Regions from separate parts of the Homo sapiens genome. Here all the other regions are linked to region 3. The links come from fine-mapping of genetic effects on gene expression. A gene starts in region 3. Each other region holds a variant in brackets. All regions are shown on one strand. Distances are from middle to middle.

The links. PIP is the estimated chance that this variant, and not a neighbour inherited with it, causes the effect. A credible set is the group of variants that fine-mapping cannot tell apart.
Region 1: its variant is the best candidate, but not a certain one, in a credible set for the expression of SASH1 in whole blood (TOPMed, PIP 0.73).
Region 2: its variant is the best candidate, but not a certain one, in a credible set for the expression of SASH1 in subcutaneous fat (GTEx, PIP 0.71).
Region 4: its variant is the best candidate, but not a certain one, in a credible set for the expression of SASH1 in lung (TOPMed, PIP 0.62).

What each region holds. Positions count from the first base shown.
Region 1 is chr6:148,201,298-148,206,551 of GRCh38, forward strand. It overlaps a transcript of SASH1 not described here. Among named protein-coding and RNA genes, the nearest start is that of SASH1, 140 kb to the right of the region's middle. The variant G/A (reference allele first, on the strand shown) is at 2,963.
Region 2 is chr6:148,530,212-148,535,465 of GRCh38, forward strand. It overlaps SASH1 (SAM and SH3 domain containing 1), which reads left to right. Exons shown (of 20, transcript NM_015278.5): 13 at 1,315-1,450; 14 at 2,586-2,755; 15 at 3,560-3,769; 16 at 4,540-4,690. Among named protein-coding and RNA genes, the nearest start is that of SASH1, 190 kb to the left of the region's middle. RefSeq lists enhancers at 2,790-3,291, 3,292-3,791. The variant G/A (reference allele first, on the strand shown) is at 3,015.
Region 3 is chr6:148,340,451-148,345,704 of GRCh38, forward strand. SASH1 (SAM and SH3 domain containing 1) reads left to right here and starts at 2,388. Exons shown (of 20, transcript NM_015278.5): 1 at 2,388-2,773. The coding sequence starts at 2,618. RefSeq lists an enhancer at 1,035-1,614.
Region 4 is chr6:148,317,421-148,322,674 of GRCh38, forward strand. It overlaps a transcript of SASH1 not described here. Among named protein-coding and RNA genes, the nearest start is that of SASH1, 23 kb to the right of the region's middle. The variant C/G (reference allele first, on the strand shown) is at 2,577.

The sequences.
Region 1 (5,254 bases), 140 kb before region 3:
TGGGTTAAGTTTTAGTTTTAGGGAGTGAAATTTAAGAGGGATACAGGCAAACCAAAGTACATTGCCATCCGGGGTGGGACCAACTGAATAGAGCAGTGATTCTCAAGCTTGTCCCTGCAGTGGAATCTCCTGGAAGGCCGATTAAAACCCAGATTGCTGGGCCCACCACTGTGCATCTCCCCCCAGAGTTTCTGATTCAGTGGCCTAGGGTGGGACCCCCAAATTTGCATTTTTCTAAGTTGCCAGGCAATGCCGATACTGCTGATCTCGGGGCACACTTTGAGAATTGCTGTCCTAGAGCTCAAAACCGTATCACCCATGGAACAGCTGCAGTAATCCAGAATGCTTTCCTTAGAGAAGAGACTGCTCTGGGGTGCCCAGAAGGCTCCTGGGGCCTGTCGAAGACCTGGAGGGTGTTCGTGATACCAAGGATCTGAACCAGGACCAGTGGAAGTGACATTGAGACAAACAGCCTGAGAATAAAGGAGAACAGATGGAGTGGGTCCTGCCAGGGGAGGCCACAAAAATAAAAGATATGGGGATGTGCTTGAACATAAAGGGTGGTGGGTTGCTGAGCAGGGATTGTGTACTTGTGGCCCTGAGGCTGGACACAGCCTGCAGATGTTCTCCAGTGGGAATGCACAAGGCTGTGAGGCATTTTAGCTTGAATGCTATTGAAGGTGTATATCCACCAGTTCACCCGGTCCATATTATCTCTTAGCCCCCACCGAGTCACCCACTTATACTTATCAGCCTGACCACATGTGGTCCTGGAGCTGAAGGGTGTACATGCAGCAGGGTGGTCAAGCAATAGGCAAATGCTGGATTCAGTTTTTTTTTTAATTATCTGTTATTTGAACTCCAAAGAATGAAAGTCAGGATGCTAGGTGAATTGTTCGCTTGTAGGTAGTAAACCTGCAATTGTATGCCAAAAGAGAGGACCCACTAAAAACTACTCTACAATGGAAGCCAACTCTAACATTGCCTGCAAGGACAGAACTTCCTAGTGTGCCTTTCTCAGTAGGGCACAGCGCTGGTTCCACGTTAAAAGAGCTGACCCACAGGGCCCACATAGCGAAAAGACATCCAAGGACTGCAGCTGGACTCATCCTTTCCATCTCCTCCTGCACACATCACCCCAGGTCTGCCCTCCCTGAGCCCTGGTGGGCTGGTCTACCCTGCTAGGAGACAGGAGGGCTGCCGGGAGGCTGGAAAACTAGGCAAGAAGTCTTGGAAGGCAATGACCAAGGCTTAGCAGGAAGAGAGATAAAGAAGGAGGGTTTAGGATTGATTACAAAATGTCTGGCACCAAGAGTGGAAGATTCTTGTGAAGAAAAGCTTATTATAGGAATTTCTGGGGAAAGAAAGAATATAAGGTGAGGAGCAGTGGCTCATGCCTATAATCCCAGCACTTTGGGAGGCCGAGGCAGGCAGATCACCTGAGTCAGGAGTTCCAGACCAGCCTGGCCAACGTGGCGAAATTCTGTCTCTACTAAAAATACAAGAACTAGGCAGGCATGGTGGCATGTGCCTGTAATCTCAGCTACTCAGGAGGCTGAGGCACAAGAATCGCTTGAACCCGGTAGGCAGAGGTTGCAGTGAGCAGAGATTGTGCCATTACACTCCAGCCTATGCAACAGAGCAAGGCTGTGTCAAAAAAAAAACAAAAACAAAAAACAGAAAAGAAAGAATATAGAAAAATTGAAATGACAGCAAGAAGTAACAAGACCAAATTAAGAAAAATTTAGAAATGGGAAATCTGGATACATTGTTATGAGAACTATATTGACTTGACTGTGATGGACTCTTTGTCCTTGAAACATTCCAAATAAAATCAGAGAAAGAGCTGGAAGTATGCTTCAGAAGAATCTTTCACTGATGTGTCTAAATGGCCTGATTCCATCTTTTCCATCTTTGCCTTCTAGTTTTGGTCACCAGGTATTTGGCATTATAATTCCCAGGCCAACACACTGCTGTCACCATTATGAGAATTCTGGGGTGGAGGGACAGTGATTTTCCCCTTCCTTACCTCGTGTCTTCATTCACTCTCTTCCTCTTCCTTCTTTTCCATCCTCCCGTCTTCTCTCCCTCCCTTCCTTTCTGTTTCTCCTTTATCACATTAAATGCAGCTGACTACAAATAAGGAAAGGAAAACTTGGGGAACGCTGTGGTGTGGGTTTCTTCCAATAATAACCTTGGCAGGTAATTTTTGCATATACAGACTGAGTCATTTTCTTATAACTGAGATCAGGGGCTGGATTTCTCCCAGGAGAAAAAACACTTATATTAACGTGTTTATGTTTTGGAATAATAATATTTGTCCATGTGAAAATATGTGTGAGTCCTTTCTGCCACACCATCTGGCGTATAACTATTCATAATCCAAACAGTAGCAGCTGCTGCAGAGCACGAGGATGAGTTTTCTTGAAGTAAAAATGGGCTAACTATTGGATGCCACACGTAGCTTTCACAGCATCACCGGTTACTCACCAGAAACCTACATAGCAGTCCCTTCCATTAATCCATTAGGTTCTTTATTAATATCACAAAAGCTCACTTTGCTATCTTCTTCCATTCCATCCAGTAGAGAAACTCTATCGTTTAACCTTACTCTCAACCTGTGGCCCTTGTACCTTGGGAACATGCATGTGTTTTACCCAAAACTGTTGGCAACTGAAGGTGTCAGTTTGGGTTTTGTTGACTGATGACAGCTGCCAGAAAAATTGCCGGGAATTTTTGCTGCAGTTCTCCACTGCGGCTTCCTACACTGCTGAACCACATTCATTATGTGTTTGTGGCTAATCAGACACATGGGGACACAGCAGCAGTTGATGAATCCCTCTCGGGCCGCTCGGCAAGGCTCTGATGTAATGGAAAGTGTAGGGTAACGCTTTCTACAGATCATTTGAATGCGGTTTGCAGAAACCCTTGAGGTTTAAGAAGGAAGTGGTTTGCGGAATAG[G/A]TGCTGGATGCTACTGTATAGAAACCACCACAATCGACAGTACAAAAGAGACCAATTTCACAGGGGAGAATTATCTGCAAGACTTTTTTCATTGCATAGTCATTCTGAGTCTCCCCCAAAAGTTGGAGGTTTTTGAAAGATAAAATTCTTGGCTGGGTGCAGTGGCTCACATCTGTAATCCCAGCACTTTGGGAGGCCAAGACAGGCAGATCTCCTGAGGTCAGGAGTTCAAGACCAGCCTGGCCAATGTAGTGAAACCCCATTTCTACTAAAAATACAAAAATTAGCCAGGCATGGTGGCAGGCACCTGTAATCCTAGCTACTCAGGAGGCTGAGGTAGGAGAATCGCTTGAACCCAGGAGGTGGAGGTTGCAGTGAGCCAAGAACATGCCATTGCACTCCAGACTGGGCAACGAGAGTGAAACTGCTTCTCAAAAACAAAAATACAAACAAAAAAAACTGTTTATGCTGATTCTACACATCACTATAGTAAGTATCCAGACCATTTAGTAAAAAAAAAAAGTCCTAACCGAATGCCCCAAAACTTGTGCCCCAAATGAAAGTATATAAAATTGCTTTAATTTTCAACACTTCAGTTGGTTGAATCATAATAATACCTTACATTTGCATGAGCTATCATGGTCCTCAGGGTGTTTTCACATATGTTTTTAGTAATTAAGACTTTTTTCCGAGAAGGCTGTCAGGTGACCCACATCAATGAGCATTCAGGAGATTGGGGTATTATCTCTGTCCAGCGTGCTTTGTCCTGTTCTCCTCACAATGGGTATCGCTAATTTCCAACTTGTATCAGTCATCTTCAAGCAGTCATTTGTCTTTTCAGATGTCTATTGGTCAGTCCTTTAAGTACCTGCTGCTTTTATCACCAGTTATAATGGGGCGATTTATCAATGTCATTCGCCTCGCTCGGCAACAAGAGAGCAACTATGAGATCTTATAGAAGTGGTCCGCATACCTGGCCTTTAACCACTCTCCTTCGACTTGAAATGGTTCTTATACCTCTGTCGTCCCAGAACTTGTCAAGAGGTCTCGGGTCAGCCTTAACTGGGCCTTGCGCTTGGTTGCCCATCAGCCTTTGCCTTCAGGGTGCATTAGATAATTTTTTCATAAACTTCTTTTTTCCAAAAGCAATATCTGCCAGCATTCCCAAGTCCCTTTTTGTATTTAGGGGTTGCATTATGTGTGTCTCTGGTTCTCACTTCTGTGTTTCTTATCATCATAATTGGCCTGACTCAGGCCAAGTAGGTGTTTGTCTCTATACCCCTATAATGTCAGTGCTAAGTAGTCCTAATAGGTCTTCCTAATAGAGGATGCCCTAAATCCTGCCCTTCCCAACCTTGCCTTTCCCTAGTCCCCAGAAGAACTTCACCTTGAAGACTCAGCTCTGACCACCACTCCCCAATCAATTCTGACCAACAGGTAGTCATCACAAAAGTGGAGACTAATCCAACTATCCTAACCCTGCTGTCTGGTGGGCCTGGACTGAACCCTGGGCACCCTGTCTGCTGACCTGCCCTGAGCCTGTGCCATACTTAGCAGATAAGCACACATGGAGCATTGCTCTCTGATTGTACTGATGCCCTCCTGCTCAAATCCAGCATCTCCACCCCTACCCACTGTGGGTGCAGCTGAGCGAGCTCTATCCTTTTGCATTCCATTGCCTCAGAGGTTCCTTCCCGGTTTGCCTAGGAATAGGCTGCCTTATGATTTTCATGGGCTTTAGGCACTTTTGCCTTCAAGAACCCCTTCCTCTGTAAAAATATATATATAGAAAGTTGCACTTTACAAATGTCAGCATAAAGATAAATAATTAAAAGATTTTCTTTGCCATTTATTTTTTTCCTGACTTAATCTATTAAAGAGAAAATGTATTAATACATTTTCATGGGCCCTTGCTGTATTGTCATTAACCTACTAAGCCTAGAAACATGCCAGCTGTCAGTGCTATGCCTAGAGCACCTGATGGAGAAGTCAGCCCCACCTAGAAACATACCTTCATAATGGATCTTGTTGCCTTAAATCAGGGTTTCTCAAAGCTCAGTCTTTTGCAAATCATATGAAACTTTATCCCATATTGCATTTCACTAGTACTAGTTTTCATCTAATATTTTTCTTCAAATTTACTTCCTTTGAAATTTTGATAGCTGTATATTTAAGAAATGTAATGTCACTAGCATAAAGCCAATATAACTTGCCATAAATAGAAAATTTACATTAATACAAATTAACAGGCCAGGTGCAGTGGCTCACGCCTGTAATCCCAGCACTTTAGGA
Region 2 (5,254 bases), 190 kb after region 3:
TATTGTAGGTAATTCATAAACATGTGATGAATAAATTAATAATTTTTTAAAGCATTTGAAAATATATCAGAGACCCACATTTACTATTGCTGTTTTTCAAACTGCGTGCTTTTTTCAGAAGCATTACAGAAGATTTTAATGGGAAAAAAGTTACTTATTTTATGACGCAGAAAGGAGGAATGAATTTTTTTTTTTTAAGGAATTCATACTTTGGAGCTTCAGTAACTTCCTAATAATGTCAGCTCTAGTTTTCTTTGTTGTTTTTGAGGTCGCTTGCTCACTTTCCTCACATTGAAAGCACTAATGTGTGTTGGATCAGAAGCTGCTGTTGCTGATGTCCTCAGATGTTTGCAGGACCTGCGGAGCTGTGTTAAGGCCCTTCTGATGACTCGGCAGCATGCAAATAGCAGGTTTCATTTTAGCTGGTTTTGAGCCCGTGTGGCTGCGGCCATATGTAATATGCCAGAGACTTTTCTATTTTGGCAAGTAAACAATTCTCACTGCAAACTTTCTGAAGTGTGATATCGTCTATTGATGTAGCACCACGAATCAAATAAGCATGCTATACTCAAATGTGCAAATGAGGAGCCGCTGAGAGGATAATACTTAGCTACTCAAAATGCAGGAAGTACTGCTGAGTCACTCCCATCAGGATTCTGGTGTGAAAGAGATTTCCCAGCTTTTTACTGACAACACTTTAGAAAAGTGAAAGAAGCTAAAACTTTAGAGTAACATATGGAAATTTTATGGTAGACTGGAAAATAGTATGTTTGCTGTATATGTGGGTTTTAAATTCATGTTTCCTTATCCAATGCCAATAATTTGTACAAATAGAAATATAAGAATCTAGCCAATTTTTTTTTTCCAGGAATACACTTTTTTAAAAGTGCATGTTTCCTATCCAAGTAGATTAAATATCCTCTGACTACACTTCCAGGTATTCTAGTAATCATGGATTGTACTTGATCTACATTTGAAGTCCAGCCTTGCTACTGGGCTTTTGCGTATGCTGAGTCTCTAAACCTTTAAGTATTTTGTCTGTGTGGTAGACAGATTTTTTTTTTCTTGGAGATTCCAAGAATATCTATTCGAGAATGAGAAATAGTATTTGAGTGCTTAATAAATAGTGACATTGGCCACGACTTTAAAAGTAAGCGAGGATGTAAGTTTAAGAGGAGGAGAATATTGGTTATAGAATCAAATATAGGTATAGATTGATTTGATTGATTTCGTTGAAGGCCAAGTCGCTGAGAATTACAAAACAACACCTGTCCACTCTGATGAACTTCTTCATTTTGTTGAAACCCATGGCAGGACTCGGGCCTTGATGGAATGCCTGGCTCCCCTCCGCCTTCACAGCCCGACCCCGAACACTTGGACAAGCCCAAGCTCAAGGCCGGGGGTTCTGTAGAAAGTCTTCGCAGTTCTCTCAGTGGGCAGAGCTCCATGAGTAAGTCGAGTTTGTCATTGTAGATTATTTTCTTTGGAGTTAATATCTGACATATACTGAGCACTAGGTTCAGGCAATTTCAAGGTGAATAAGACCAAGTCCTGCCCTTCAGGTGCTATTAGAGAATCAGACCAATAAACTCTCTGGACTCAGAGTCGTGTTTGTTTATTAGTAGACATGCAGCAGCAGCAGCCCAAAACAGGAGGTGATGAATTTTGATCGGAGACAATAGGGAAAGCATCTCAGAGGAAGGATCTAGAGAGCAGGGGGAATAAGCCAGGGAGACAAGCACATGAAGATGACCAGCAAAATAAAGGGAGTGGGGAAGGGAGGGGAATTTTATATGTGACTGATAAATTCGGGCCAATGGTAGTTGGAGTTGGCTGAATGGTATGAAGGAAAAGATCAACTTTATTTTATTTTTATTTTTATTTTTGAGATGGAGTCTCACTGTCTCCCAGGCTGGAGTGCAGTGTTGTGATCTCAGCTCACTGCAACCTTCACCTCCCTGGCTCAAGGGATCCTCCTGCCTCAGCCTTCCGCATAGCTGTACTACAGGGTCATGCCACCACACCCGGCTAATTTTGTTGTAGAGACGGGGTTTTGCCATGTAGCCCAGGCTGGTGGAACTCCTGGACTCAAGCGATCTGCCCACCTCGGCCTCCTAAAGTGCTGGGATTATAGGCGTGAGCCACCGTGCCCCGAGATCAAGTTTAAACCTACCACTTTAAGCTCTTTCTTACCCTTTTGGGCAAATGACATGACTGCTCTGAATTTGTTTCCTCATCTGTAAAATGGTTAGAGAGAGTGTGCATTACCACTGAGAGGTCACGAATGTTAAGAGCAGAGTCTGGTGCCTGGCCCTGCAGTGTCCTCCACGCGGGATCCTCCGTGCCACATGGATTCCCAGGTCATGAGGGTAACTTGCTGTGAGTCCCCTGTCCACTGAGGAGCTGAGGGATAGCACTCGGAGAATTCATAACTGGGCCCTGCCCTGGTCCTGACAGAGGGTTGTGGCTCAAGGCTTCCTTTCTCTGGGCCTTCATTTCCTAATCTGCCATACCTTCAATACCTTTCTGCTTTGCTGGGTGGGAAATCTGGATCTACCCGTGTTCTTCCTATGTTTCCTGTACAGGCGGTCAAACAGTGAGCACCACTGATTCCTCAACCAGCAACCGGGAAAGCGTCAAGTCGGAAGATGGGGATGACGAAGAGCCGCCTTACCGAGGCCCGTTCTGCGGGCGTGCCAGGGTGCACACCGACTTCACCCCCAGTCCCTATGACACAGACTCACTCAAGCTCAAGGTATCTCTCTCCCTGGCCTCAGAGCAGCTAACTGGGCTCTTCCATTTCTCTAGGAGGCTTTCTTTCCTCCTCACTGTTGAATGCTGGGCTACTATGGTACAGACTGGACAGTATCTTGGCTACCTCGATCACTGGTCTCCTCTGTAGTGAAAAACAGAACAAGAACCAGCCAGCCCTCGAGGCAGAGGGAGGGTCTCGTGTTAATCCCTGGGTTAGCATCACTTCACCCCTCTGACCTCAGCTTCCCTCTAGAATTCCT[G/A]TTGCACACCCTCCCTCTCCCCACCTGGCTCCTGCTCCACACACCTGGTTTCTGTGTTTTCTCCATCTGAAGAAAGATTTCTGCCTTCTGTGTGCTCAGAGGTACCTTTATGGGACAGATGGGGTTCCACAAAGTGTGTGCAGCCATGACAGGGCCGGGATTGCCACTGGTTAGGACAGGTGGGAAGTGCCTCCTCTAAGAAGTGGGAGCCCTCTGAGGAGGGAAGGCGTTCAGAGTGCCGGGCGGGCAGCCTGGCTGAGAGCACCAGGGGTACCCCAGGCACCCCTGGTTCTGCAGGGCAGGAGGGTGGAGGGGCTGTGACCGGGGGCCTGCGTGGAATTCCGTACAGTCAGAGACACCTGTCTGGCCTCTGCGGAGCTCACAGTCACATCCTATGCAGGTCACTCAGAGGGGTGACTTGTGGGACCCCGATTCTGGCCTTTGTGGCATCTTCACTTCTGCATGACCTGTGTATCTGACAGATTCTTGATTTGTACGTTCATGGAATGTACCTAATGGAAAGATCTTTGCTCCCTGGGCCACAGAAAGGAGATATCATCGATATAATCAGCAAGCCACCCATGGGGACCTGGATGGGCCTGCTGAACAACAAAGTCGGCACGTTCAAGTTCATCTACGTGGACGTGCTCAGTGAAGACGAGGAGAAACCCAAACGCCCCACCAGGAGGCGTCGGAAAGGACGACCACCCCAGCCCAAGTCTGTGGAGGATCTCCTGGATCGGATTAACCTAAAAGTCAGTCGCTTCTGATTCTTGTCACACGCTACTACCTCACTGCCTTTTTCTCTCCTACACTAAGCAAGTGAGGGCATTTTTAGGGTAGGGTTGGGGCTGATCTGTGTGGTCCAATAAGGGCAGCTCGTTACTATGATGAGCATTCATTATTCTACAGAAAGAGTTAGTTAGTTACCAGTTTTCCAACACTGCCCTTGACCTCAGCTGTGGGTGATAGCGTAAGCCCCGGGTCAAACCTTGCTGCTGGAAGAGCTGTAGGCAGAAACTCCTGGCACCTTGATCGCAGCTAGCTCCACAGGGGCCACAAGGAAACTCTGCGCCCACCTCTCTCCCACCATCACTCCAGGCATCTACTAGCATGAGTCTGCAATGAGAGATTATGTTTCCTCTTTGCAAAACTCTTGATCCTGAGGACTTAAAAGCTGGATTTTAATAGCTCTGTAAGTGGAGGAGGAGTCTCCTCTGTTGTGGGCTCTGTGGAGGTAAAGGAATTAGCTCTTATCAAGAGTACAATTATAGTGCAAGCCAGCAGAATCCATCACAGCCTGCAATGTACATCTTCCTAACCCATGATTAATAAAACACCCTGCTTGCCTACTAAGCCAGAGGGCTGGGATGTACAGGATCCATTGCAAATGATACTTACTAATCTTTTGATTAGCCTGAAGGTGACTATGGGAACAGTGTGTGGGTTGCAGGCTAGTTGTTGGCGGTGTTATCATGTGTCTGGGCTGGCTGACACCCTTCTGTCTTCCTTCTCCCTCTCACAGGAGCACATGCCCACTTTCCTGTTCAATGGATATGAAGATTTGGACACCTTTAAGCTGCTGGAGGAGGAAGACTTGGATGAGTTAAATATCAGGGACCCGGAACACAGAGCTGTTCTCTTGACAGCAGTGGAGCTGTTACAAGAGTATGACAGTAAGTCCCTGTATGCACAGAGGTGTTCCCTGTGAGGTCTGCCACAGCAGGCCCCACGTATGCTGCCAGTATGTGCTTAGGTCCCTGGAGTCACTTATTCTGTCCTGTTCTTTCTGTTACAAGAGTATGACAGTAAGTCCCTGTACGCACAGAGGTGTTCCCTGTGAGGTCTGCCACAGCAGGCCCCACCTACGCTGCCAGTATGTGCTTAGGTCCCTGGAGTCACTTATTCTGTCCTGTTCTTTCCCATGCCAAGGTCAAACAGCACAAAATCATAAATTCCCAGTGCAGACATGGGAACAAAAGAAAACCTCCTGTGCCGCCGCCACCTTTCCGGGCATGTTTCTAGGTGATAGTTGAAGAGGATTCTGCACCAAGTGTCTGCAAGAATGGAATTACAGTTTTCCCAAAAAAATGGGTAGACTCCACTTTCAGTACTTTTGAGAGGTGCAGCCTCCAGCAGGCCATTGGGACAGCTGAGCACAAAAGTGACTGACCAGCTGGGAGGTTTTCGCTCAGCCAAAGCTTGATTACTTCTCAGAGCACACGAGGAGTTGTGTTCTT
Region 3 (5,254 bases):
CCAGCCTGGGCGACAGGGTGACAGAGCAAGACTCTGTCTCAAAAAAAAAAAAAAAAGTATCACGTGGTGAATAAATTCAAATTCTTAAATATACCAATACAGTCAACTGTAAAGGCTATTTATCTTTTCCTATCATTTACTTATATTTATCTATTTATAGAAATGACAATTAAAAAAACCTCATCAGCCTTAACTGAATTTATTTTTATTCAAAGTATCACAGAGCACGAGGGAGCCTTGAAAACCCATCTGGCCTAACTCCGGCATCAGCCTAGGAAAGCACAAGACCTGGCTGTACTGACTCATAGTTCAGTGCTCTTTCTACTTCAACACAATGCCTCAATGCTATTAAGGAGAAATTTAATAATTCTTTTGGTTTCCTTTCACAAACATTATCGTCAGAGACTGTGCGCAGTGGCTCATGCCTATAATCCCAGCACTTGAGGAGACCAAGGAGGGAGGATCCCTTGAGTCCAGGAGTTTGAGACCACCTTGGGCAACAGCAAGAGATCATGTCTCTATAAAAAATTTAAAAAATTAGTCTGGTGCAGCGGTGTGCCTGTAGTCCCTGCTACTCAGGTGGTTGAGGCAGGAGGATTGCTTGAGCCCAGGAGTTCAAGGCCGCAGTGAGCTACGATTGCAGCACTGCACTGCCGGGGTGAGAGAGCAGGACCTTGTCTCTAAAAAAATTTTTCAGCATACTTTTTTTTTCTTTGGAGACAGAGAGTCTTCCTCTGTCACCCAGGCTGGAGTGCAGCAGCAGGACCTCACTGTAACCTTCGCCTCCTGGGTTCAAGCTATTCTCCTGCCTCAGCCTCCTGAGTAGCTGGGATTACAGGCATGTTCCAACACTCTTGCTATGTTTTGTTTTTTTTTTTTGTTTTTTTTTTTTTTGTATTTTTAGTAGAGACAGGGTTTTGCTGTGTTGACCAGGCTGTTCTCAAAATCCTGGCCTCAAGTGATTCGCCCGCCTCAGCCTCCCAAAGTGCTGGGATTACAGGCGCCAGCCCCGCACCCGCCAAAAACACACAAAAATTATCAGGGATTGTGTTTATAAATTTAGTTACTTTTGAAAATGTTTTTACATTTTGAACTTTCCTGTAAGGACTATTCACCCATTGCATTGATTGGTGCTCACAGCACTTAATACTTGAACAAGGGGAATTCAAGGACATGCTCTTATCCCCTTTCAAGTGGACTCAGAAGGAAAACAAAACAAAACAAAACAAAACAAACAAACAAACAAAAAAAACCCCACAATCAACAAGAAACAGGAGAGGCCTCAAAACAAGCAGGGCTCTCTCCCTGGGGCATCTCACTTTTTTTTTTCCTTTTAAACCACAAGGCCCTAACAGAGGAGCAAACTCCATGTGGTTTCTTAACTGTTTCAAAAGTGATCAATCACCAAATCGAATGTGACGTGCATTGTCACCTTCCAAGGAAAACTCTGAGTAGTCTTGAAAGATAGAATCACAAAAGGGAAAAATCACCTCTCCAGGGCTAGTTCCCTTATAAAATAAATCTGTCCTGGGGCTTCCCCTTGGAAAAACACACACAGGGCCCCAAGTGTGTGTAGGCTGACTGGCTACACAATCATTTGAATTTAGTTTCGAAAATAGCCCTTCCCTGTGTCCCTAATGTAAAGGAATAATTAAAACCCAAAGCGCATTTCCCTTAATTAGCCGAAAGCCCTAGCAATGCATGGCATTGTGGGCATTCAGGAGCCAAAATGCCCCCACTCATAAAAAATGATCCAAACAATGGCTCGTGCCCAAGCTTTCACACTTGTTTTGCAGAGAAGTCTTGGCTGGCAGAGGCAGGATTTGTAATTCCTTGGGTCGCTTGACTTCACGAGGGGCGAGGTATGCATTGTAGCGACACGGACTACTTGTGAAGCCTTTGGGCGGGAGTCGCTTAAAGATTAACTTTCTCGGGTTTCCGTTACCAAAAGCGTTTCCGTGAATAGCGTGATTGGAAACTTGTGCGGGCCGGAGACCGCGGCGCGGCTGCTCTTTCAACAGGCGATTTGTTCTCCTGTCCGAGGCTCATTTCCATGCAAAGAGCCTGACATCAGAGCACCTTTTGTTGCTAAACGCTTTCTTTAGCCTCGAGGGAGAGAGTCATGTGGAGCTGGAAGAGCTCATTTTGAAGAGAGGGGTCCCGGGGAGCTCCCTCCAAGATCTAGAGGCTCCGCGGCCACCCCTGCCGGGTCCTGCCAAGACTTGCTAGAAGGAACGAGTCGCGTGCCTTAGTTAGTTGGTTCCCGTCACAGGAAGAAACGCCTTTGCAGTGGGTTTAATTGCTTCTGGGCCGAGCGAATTCCCCGCCGTACAACTCAGTGGTGCGGACTTTGCCTCCTGCTACCCTGTTGCTGCGCCGAGCGGGGTGGGAAAGTTTCTGGAGTTGTCAGTCGCGCAGCCCGTGGCCACCTAGACCCGAGGTGCGGGCGCCTGCGAAGGGCCCCCGCGGGGTGGCCGGGGCCGCCGGGGCATGCAGCGCGGGGGCGCGGCTCGGTGACGCCGCGGGCGGGGACCCGGCATCCGGGCAGGCTGCGCGCGGGTGCGGGGCGAGGGCGCCGCGGGGACTGGGACGCACGGCCCGCGCGCGGGACACGGCCATGGAGGACGCGGGAGCAGCTGGCCCGGGGCCGGAGCCTGAGCCCGAGCCCGAGCCGGAGCCCGAGCCCGCGCCGGAGCCGGAACCGGAGCCCAAGCCGGGTGCTGGCACATCCGAGGCGTTCTCCCGACTCTGGACCGACGTGATGGGTATCCTGGTAAGTTACCTGGGGAGGGGGCGGCGCAGGAAGTACAGTTCGCAGCAGCCCCTCTGAAACCGGGGGCTCCCTTCTCGCCCACCCACTGGGCAACCCACTCCGCAGAGGCGTCCTTCTCTGGCTCTAGTTCTTAGGGGGCTAAATACACACAGTATAGGATTTCAAACCCTAATTAAAAAATAACCAGCCACAGGTCCCGTCAAAAGGTGTTTTTTAAACAATCGGGTATGATATTCAACAGTTTAATCTGGGACACCTGCTGACATGTTGGTGTGGAAAAGGCGAGAAAGAGGCCTTCAAAAAGTAGATGTAAATAAATATTTGGTTGGTGCTGGATTAGGGAAAAGGCTGATGTTACTGATGTTTATCTCTTCACCATTTGTTGTGTGACCACAAGAGGGAAAACAAACATTTCCTTACTCAGAACTGCCAAAATGTTTGCCTACTTTTTTTTGCAGTTTTTCAATTTGTGGAGTTACAGGATATTTGTTTTATATGTTTGGGGCTAAAACAATAGGACTTATTTTGCTAAATCTGTGCTGTCATGTATTTTGAAATGTCCAGTGACTAAAAGCGCCCCTGGATTTGGCATAGTCTCTGGGAAGCAGTTCTTCTGTATGGAGGGTGAAGTTTTAACCTGCTCAGGGTTGAATACCTTGGGGAAGTAATAGATTTGCTTTGGTGGAGCTGTAGTTAGGCAGGTAGACTGGAATCAGATGGGCGAGGTTTATTACAGTCAGACATCTTAATCCATACATAAAAGACAACTTTAGTTTAAAGACTTGGAATGGCCAGATGTGCAGATTATCAGAAAAGTCTCTAGATTTGCTTTGAGATCTTATATTTTTTGAGTGGGAGGAGATGGAGTGAAAGTTCTTCTTTGGGAATGATAAACCGTGTACAGTTTTTAGCACAGTGATTAAACTCTTGGGCTTCAAAGTAAGTTATACTAGGTCAAATGCCAGCTCTCCAATTGACTGTTTACATGATCTTGGCCAAGTCATTCAACCTCTCTGATCCTCAGTTTCATCACCTGAAAATTGAAGAAAAGAAGACTTGCTTCTTGGGGTTTCTGAGATTTAGCTGGGTTGATGTGTGTATCAAGTACTCAGCAGACTGTATAGCATATAGTAGAGGCTCAATAAGTGTAGCTGTCTTTCAGGTTTTATTTGTTTCCTGCAAAGTCTCCTGTCTCTTCCTTCTGGACATCCTAAAAGCCCAGTTACTCCATTTTCAGGTGACCATTGGTATTTATGATTCTTACTATACAGAGAACCAGCGAGCGTTGGTTAAAGATTTCTATCTGCTCTTGTCACTCTCCAGTATTGAAAAATGTATATAAATATGCATGCAATGTATATTTACATACTATATATAGCACATGTATATAATATACCTAAATCTAATATATATTTTAGATTTAAAAGGTTTTGTTTTTGCATTTTCTGAAGTATACAGATGAATATGATCCTTCACTGAAGTTCCAGAAAACCTAATGGACATTTTAAAGTTGTGATAAACTTTTTCTTTTCTTTTTTTTTTTTTTTTTTGAGACGAAGTCTTGCTCCGTCGCCCAGGCTGGGGTGCAGTGGCACGAGCTCAGCTCACTGCAACCTCCGCCTCCTGAGTTCAAGCAATTTTCCTGCCTCAGCCTCCTGAGTAGCTGGGATTACAGGCGCGCAACACCACACCCGGCTGATTTTTGTATTTTTAGTAGAGACGGGGTTTCACCATGTTAGCCAGGCTGGTCTCGAACTCCTGACCTTGTGATCTGCCCACCTCGGCCTCCCAAAGTGCTGGGATTACAGGCGTGAGCCACCGCGCCCGATAGACTGTTTTTAAGTTATCCTGTTATTTCTTGTCTAGATCCAGTTCTAAGTTTTCAGTCACTGAGGAAATTGGTTTGATAATATCCCATTGTATCCCTTACTCTAGGGCGTTGGGCTGGGGGCGGGGAGGATTGGGGGCCTGTTTAAATGAAACTTGGGCTGAGGGTTCTTTTGGGGAAGAGGGTTGGCCAGTGGCATTTTCTGCAGATTTGCTTTCCCTTCCCTGACAGATTCCAGCACTGTTGGGTCAGTTGTAGTGGAGTGTTCTTTGGCTGAGTTAAAAGATGGGGTGGGGCTTCAGAAGCTCAAACCTGCTATTGAAAGGGCAGATGCAGGAGCAAAGAAAATATGTACTTCAGCTAATCATTCAGGATCAGGCTGGGAAGAACGTAAAGCCTGTCCCAGACAGGTTGTGTTTGCTCATGTTTTCCTCTTGTTTATCTGGGGTAAACAGGCATGGAGATTGTTCCTTAGTAAAATTCAGAGGAAGACATGGCTTACTGCTCCTTTGTAGATGTCTTGCAGGGAGACACCAGGCTAAAAGGGAGGGAAAGCTGTCATCCAAGTGTTTATACAAACTGAGTCTTCGGGGAAATACATCAAGACACAAAATTAACAGTTGACTTTATTCTCACTGAAACAAGAGACACCA
Region 4 (5,254 bases), 23 kb before region 3:
AAAATTTTTTTTGTTGTTTTTGAGATGGAGTTTCACTCTTGTTGCCAAGGCTGGAGTGCAATGGCACGACCTCGGCTCACCGCAACCTCCGCCTCCTGGGCTCAAGCGATTCTCCTGCCTCAGCCTCCCGAGTAGCTGGGATTACAGGCATGTGCCACCACATCCGGCTAATTTTTTTGTATTTTTAGTAGAGACGGGGTTTCACCATGTTGGCCAGGATGGTCTCAATCTCCTGACCTTGTGATCCGCCTGCCTCGGCCTCCCAAAGTGCTGGGATTACAGTCGTGAGCCACGGCGCCCGGCCAAGGAAAAAAATTTTTAATGGGACTCCCAACATCTTGCTTTTGTTGGATACTGGATCCATTCAGGTTCCATTCATGAAATATTTGCCATAGTGCATTGCTGCCTTTTTGGAAATGCTATAATATCTCAACCTTTAGCAACGCATTCCATTATTTAACAGTGAGGCATTCAGGAACTATCATAAGTTATGTGAAAGGTTGTGTTTTCTGAAACTGTTGAGAAAAGAACCCTTGTCTCTCAGCTTCAGGAACTCAGTCATTTTAATACTAGCAAGTATTTACATAAAGAATCTAAAAGCCCAGGACTTAGACTGAGAATTCATCCCCATGCATCACACAGAGACCTTTTGGTCTAAGGCACTAGTATCGTGGCCCTCAGTTTCTGCCACTGTCATTCATGGAGGCATTCATTCATTCTTTCATTCACCAGACCAATTTTTAGAACACTTCTATGTCTGGCTGGCATTGAATTTGTCTCCATGAATGCTTGAGTCTGGAAACAGACAAACAGCAGGCATGTTTTGCCAGGCAATGAATAGGTAGCATTACAAAATATTTAATATACAGGGCAGTACCTGTATACAGTAAATAATCAGTGTTCTTTATTAACATTATGCTTATCATTAAACAGCATAGTAACAGTATAGAAAAATTTTCAGATAGTTTAGTTCAAAATCATATCATCTGAATGCATCAACAGCTTTCATTTGACATTCATTTATTTGTTTGTTCAAAAAATATTTATTGAGCTCCTTACTGTACTGCAAACATGGCCATAGAACATTGGCAGCTTCTTTTCTCACCTTTTGTGGGCACATATACTACTAATTTCTTTTTTTTTTTTTTTTGAGACGGCGTCTCTTTCTGTCGCCGAGGCTGGAGTGCAATGGCATGATCTTGGCTCACTGCAAGCTCCGCCTCCCGGGTTCAAGCGATTCTCCTGCCTCAGCCTCACGAGTAGCTCGGACTACAGGCGCCGGCCACCACGCTCAGCTAATTTTTATACTTTTAATAGAGACGGGGTTTCACCACGTTGACCAGGATGGTCTCGATCTCTTGACCTTGTGATCCGCCCGCCTCAGCCTCCCAAAGTGCTGGGATTACAGGCGTGAGCCGCCACGCCCAGCTATACTACTAATTTCTTAAAATTTTTCACACAGAGAATATTTTCCCATGCTGTTACATATTTTATACGGTTTTAACAATTTAATCTGTAGATATTATTCCTTCAAGACATCATATCATCATTTATTTGACCATTCTCCTGTTATGGAATATGGAAGAAGCCGCATTTATCTTCTTTTTTTTTTTTTTTTTTTTTTTTTTTTGAGACGGAGTCTGGCTCTGTAGCCCAGGCTGGAGTGCAGTGGCGCGATCTCGGCTCACTGCAAGCTCCGCCTCCCGAGTTCATGCCATTCTCCTGCCTCAGCCTCCCGAGTAGCTGGGACCACAGGCGCCCACCACCACGTCCGGCTAATTCTTTTGTATTTTTTAGTGGAGACGGGGTTTCACCGTGTTTTGCCAGGATGGTCTTGATCTCCTGACCTCATGATCCACCCGCCTCTGCCTCCCAAAGTGCTGGGATTACAGGCGTGAGCCACCGCGCCCAGCCCCATTTATCTTTTTTTACCCCCTTCAATTTGGAGTTAAGGAACCTGGGAGATTGTGAATCACCGTAGTCCTCCCTTATTCATGGTTTCTTTTTCCTCAATTTTAGTTACCCACATTTTAGTCCTAAAATATTAAATGGAAAACTCAATAAATAAATATGTATAAGATTTTTGTTTTTTTGTTTTGTTTTTTGTTTTTTTGAGATGGAGTTTTGCTCTTGTTGCCCAGGCTGGAGTGCAATGGCATGATCTCGGCTCACCACAACCTCCCCTCCCGGGTTCAAGCAATTCCCAGCCTCAGGCTCCCGAGTAGCTGGGATTGCAGGCATGCGCCACCACGCCCAACTAATTTTGTATTTTTGGTAGACACAGGGTTTCTCCATGTTGGTCAGGCTGGTCTCGAATTCCCGATCTCAGGTGATCCGCAAGTCTTGGCCTCCCAAAGTACTGGGATTACAGGCATGAGCCACCGCACCCGGCCCGATGTATAAGTTTTAAATTGCACGCCATTCTGAGGGACATAATGAAATCTTGTGCTGTCCAGCAACATCCCTCCCAGGATGTGACTCCTCCCTCTGTCCATTGTACCCATGTGGTCTACACAGTAGTTGTTTAGTAGCTGACTCAGTTATCAGATTGACTATCACCATACTGCTGTTGAAGT[C/G]ACCCTTATTTTGCCTCATGATGGCCCCAAAGTACAAGAGCAGTGATGCTGGCATATGGTTATAATTGTTCTATTTTATCGTTAGTTGTTAATGTATTACTGTGCCTAAGTTATAAATTAAACTTTATCATAAGTATGTATGTATGAGAAAAAACATAATATCTATAGGGTTCAGCACCATCCATGGTTTCAGGAATTCACTGGGGGTTGGGGAATCTATCCCCTAAGGATAAAGGGAGAATACTTTACTTCAGATCGCAGAGCCTGTGGAAAGATCTGGACAAGACCCTCTGAAAAGAGCTGATTGGTGCTGCTGCTAGAAAATATCAAGGTACATTATTGGTGTATGGGCCACCCCCCTTGATAGCGGCACCGCTTCTGGCTGGCCTTTGGGCAGGTATGACCTTCACATTAGTGAAGTGTTCCAAATTTTACTCCCTCTCTCCCTAATGTGTGTATTCTGTTACAGCAGGCTTTGGAATCATCTACTCAGCCAAGGGACTGTCCCTGGTACATGGTGCTCTTCAAAATAAAGTGAAGATTACCATCCCAAAGAGGACATTAGGAAGAACCAAAAGACAAAGGGTGGGTTCTTTCAGGTCTTTAAGTCCAACCTCCTTCGCTTACAGCCTACAAGGTGGAAAGTGTTTGACCATCCATCTGCCTTGAGCTTTGGGTTCAGCCATTCTCCCACTTGTATTGGTCTGGAACTCCTGGGCTCAAGAGATTCTCCTCCTCCAGCCTCCCAAAGTGTTGGTATTACAGGCGTGAGCCACCGTACCCAGACTTCACTTGTGTTTTTTAAAACAGAGAGCTTCAAGTCCCTCCAACACTTAATGTCATTTTATGTCTTTGTGCCTTTGCTCCCATTGTTCTCATAGTCTGAGTCCAGTTTAGCCACCACATGGCTGAGTAATTTTGATTCTTCCTTCAGTACTTCTTACTAACTCAGATGAAGCCTCTTACAAGAAGTCTTCCATAATGCCTCAAGGCTGCACTAACCGTCCAGTCTCTTTGTTCATAAAGCACCTTGTGCGTTCCTTTATCACACAGGATTGATAGTATTAGGTTGGTGCAAACATAATCACGGTTTTTACCATTGAAGGTAATGGCAGGCCAGGCGCGGTGGCTCACATCTGTAATCCCATGCCTTGTGAGGCCAAGGCAGGCAGATCACTTGAGGTCAGGAGTTCAAGACCAGCCTGGCCAATGTGGTGAAACACCATCTCTACTAAATACAAAAAATGAGCCTGGCGTGGTGGCGCATGCCTGTAATCCCACCTACTTGGGAAGCTGAGGCACGAGAATCTCTTGAACCCAGAGACAGAGGTTGCAGTGAGCTGAGATTGCACCATTGCACTCCAGCCTGGGTAACAAGAGTGAAACTCTGTCTTAAAAAAAAAAAAAAAAAAGTAATGGCAAATGGATGTATGTGCATGAAAGATCAAAATGAAGCTCTTTGTCCTATGAGCTACTGAAACAGAGGAACCCCTGAGATTGCTGTGCTTAAAAATACTGCCATTTCTGCCTTCAGGAATATAATGGTGATCAAACATGGCACCTGGCTGACTGCACTCTTTGAAAGTAATGGCAAAAACTGTGATTACATTCATACCAGCCTACTTATGTGTCTGTCTCCCTCACTAGACTAAGCTCATCAAAATCAGGATTTACAACTTATTTTCACATTCCCAATGCTTAGCACAAAATAGACACTTAGTAAGTATTTATTGAACTGAAATCCATCGAAGATGGTCTAGGCATAGCATCAGGGAAATGTAATTAGAATGCAGTCCTTACCTCCTTACTTAGAAGGTCTGATCAATTCTGTTGTTATGATTGGGTAAGAAAAATGTGTTAATAGGAAAGGAGGAGTCTATTTGATCTTTAAAAGAGAAAACTCCTACAGTGATAATTTCTTCTATGTGTAAATTTTTAACTTTCATATATAAATGGTATACATATACATTTATTAAAATATATGTATAAATGATGGTGATAATAATATTACCACATTCATCTCCTCTGGAATCTTGGTCTAACAGTAGCATCTCTTAAATCTTCCATCTCTCAGCCGGGCACAGTGGCCCATGCCTGTAATCCTAGCACTTTGGGAGGCCGAGGCAAGCAGATCATTTGAGGTCAGGAGTTCGAGACCAGCCTGGCCAACATGGTGAAACTCCATCTCTACTAAAAATACAACAATTAGCCAGGCATGGTGGCGGGTGCCTGTAATCCCAGCTACTTGGGAGGCTGAGGGCATGAGAATCAGTTGAACCCGGGAAGTGGAGATTGCATTGAGCCGAGACTGCGCCACTGCACTCCAGCCTGGGCAATAGAGCAAGACTCAGTCTCAAATAAAATAAAATAATAAAATAAAATAAAAAGAAACCTTCCATCTGTCCTTCTCTACATAGTTCTTTTCGGCTTAATTTATAAATTTGCTCAACTCTTTCACATTCTTAACCATCTTCTTGGGCTTCTTCACATTTGTTTACCTATTTTTCTCCCAGTCATCCTTCAGTCCGTTGCAATCCAGTTTCTACTCCTTCCCCTGACCCTGAAATTGCAGAGGCTGGGTAGGGTTACCATTGACTCCAAAATGCATGCTCAGCTGACGTTTCTTGCTGCTGTGACTCTTCTCTTGCTTTGGACACTGCGGATCCCTTACTCCTTGC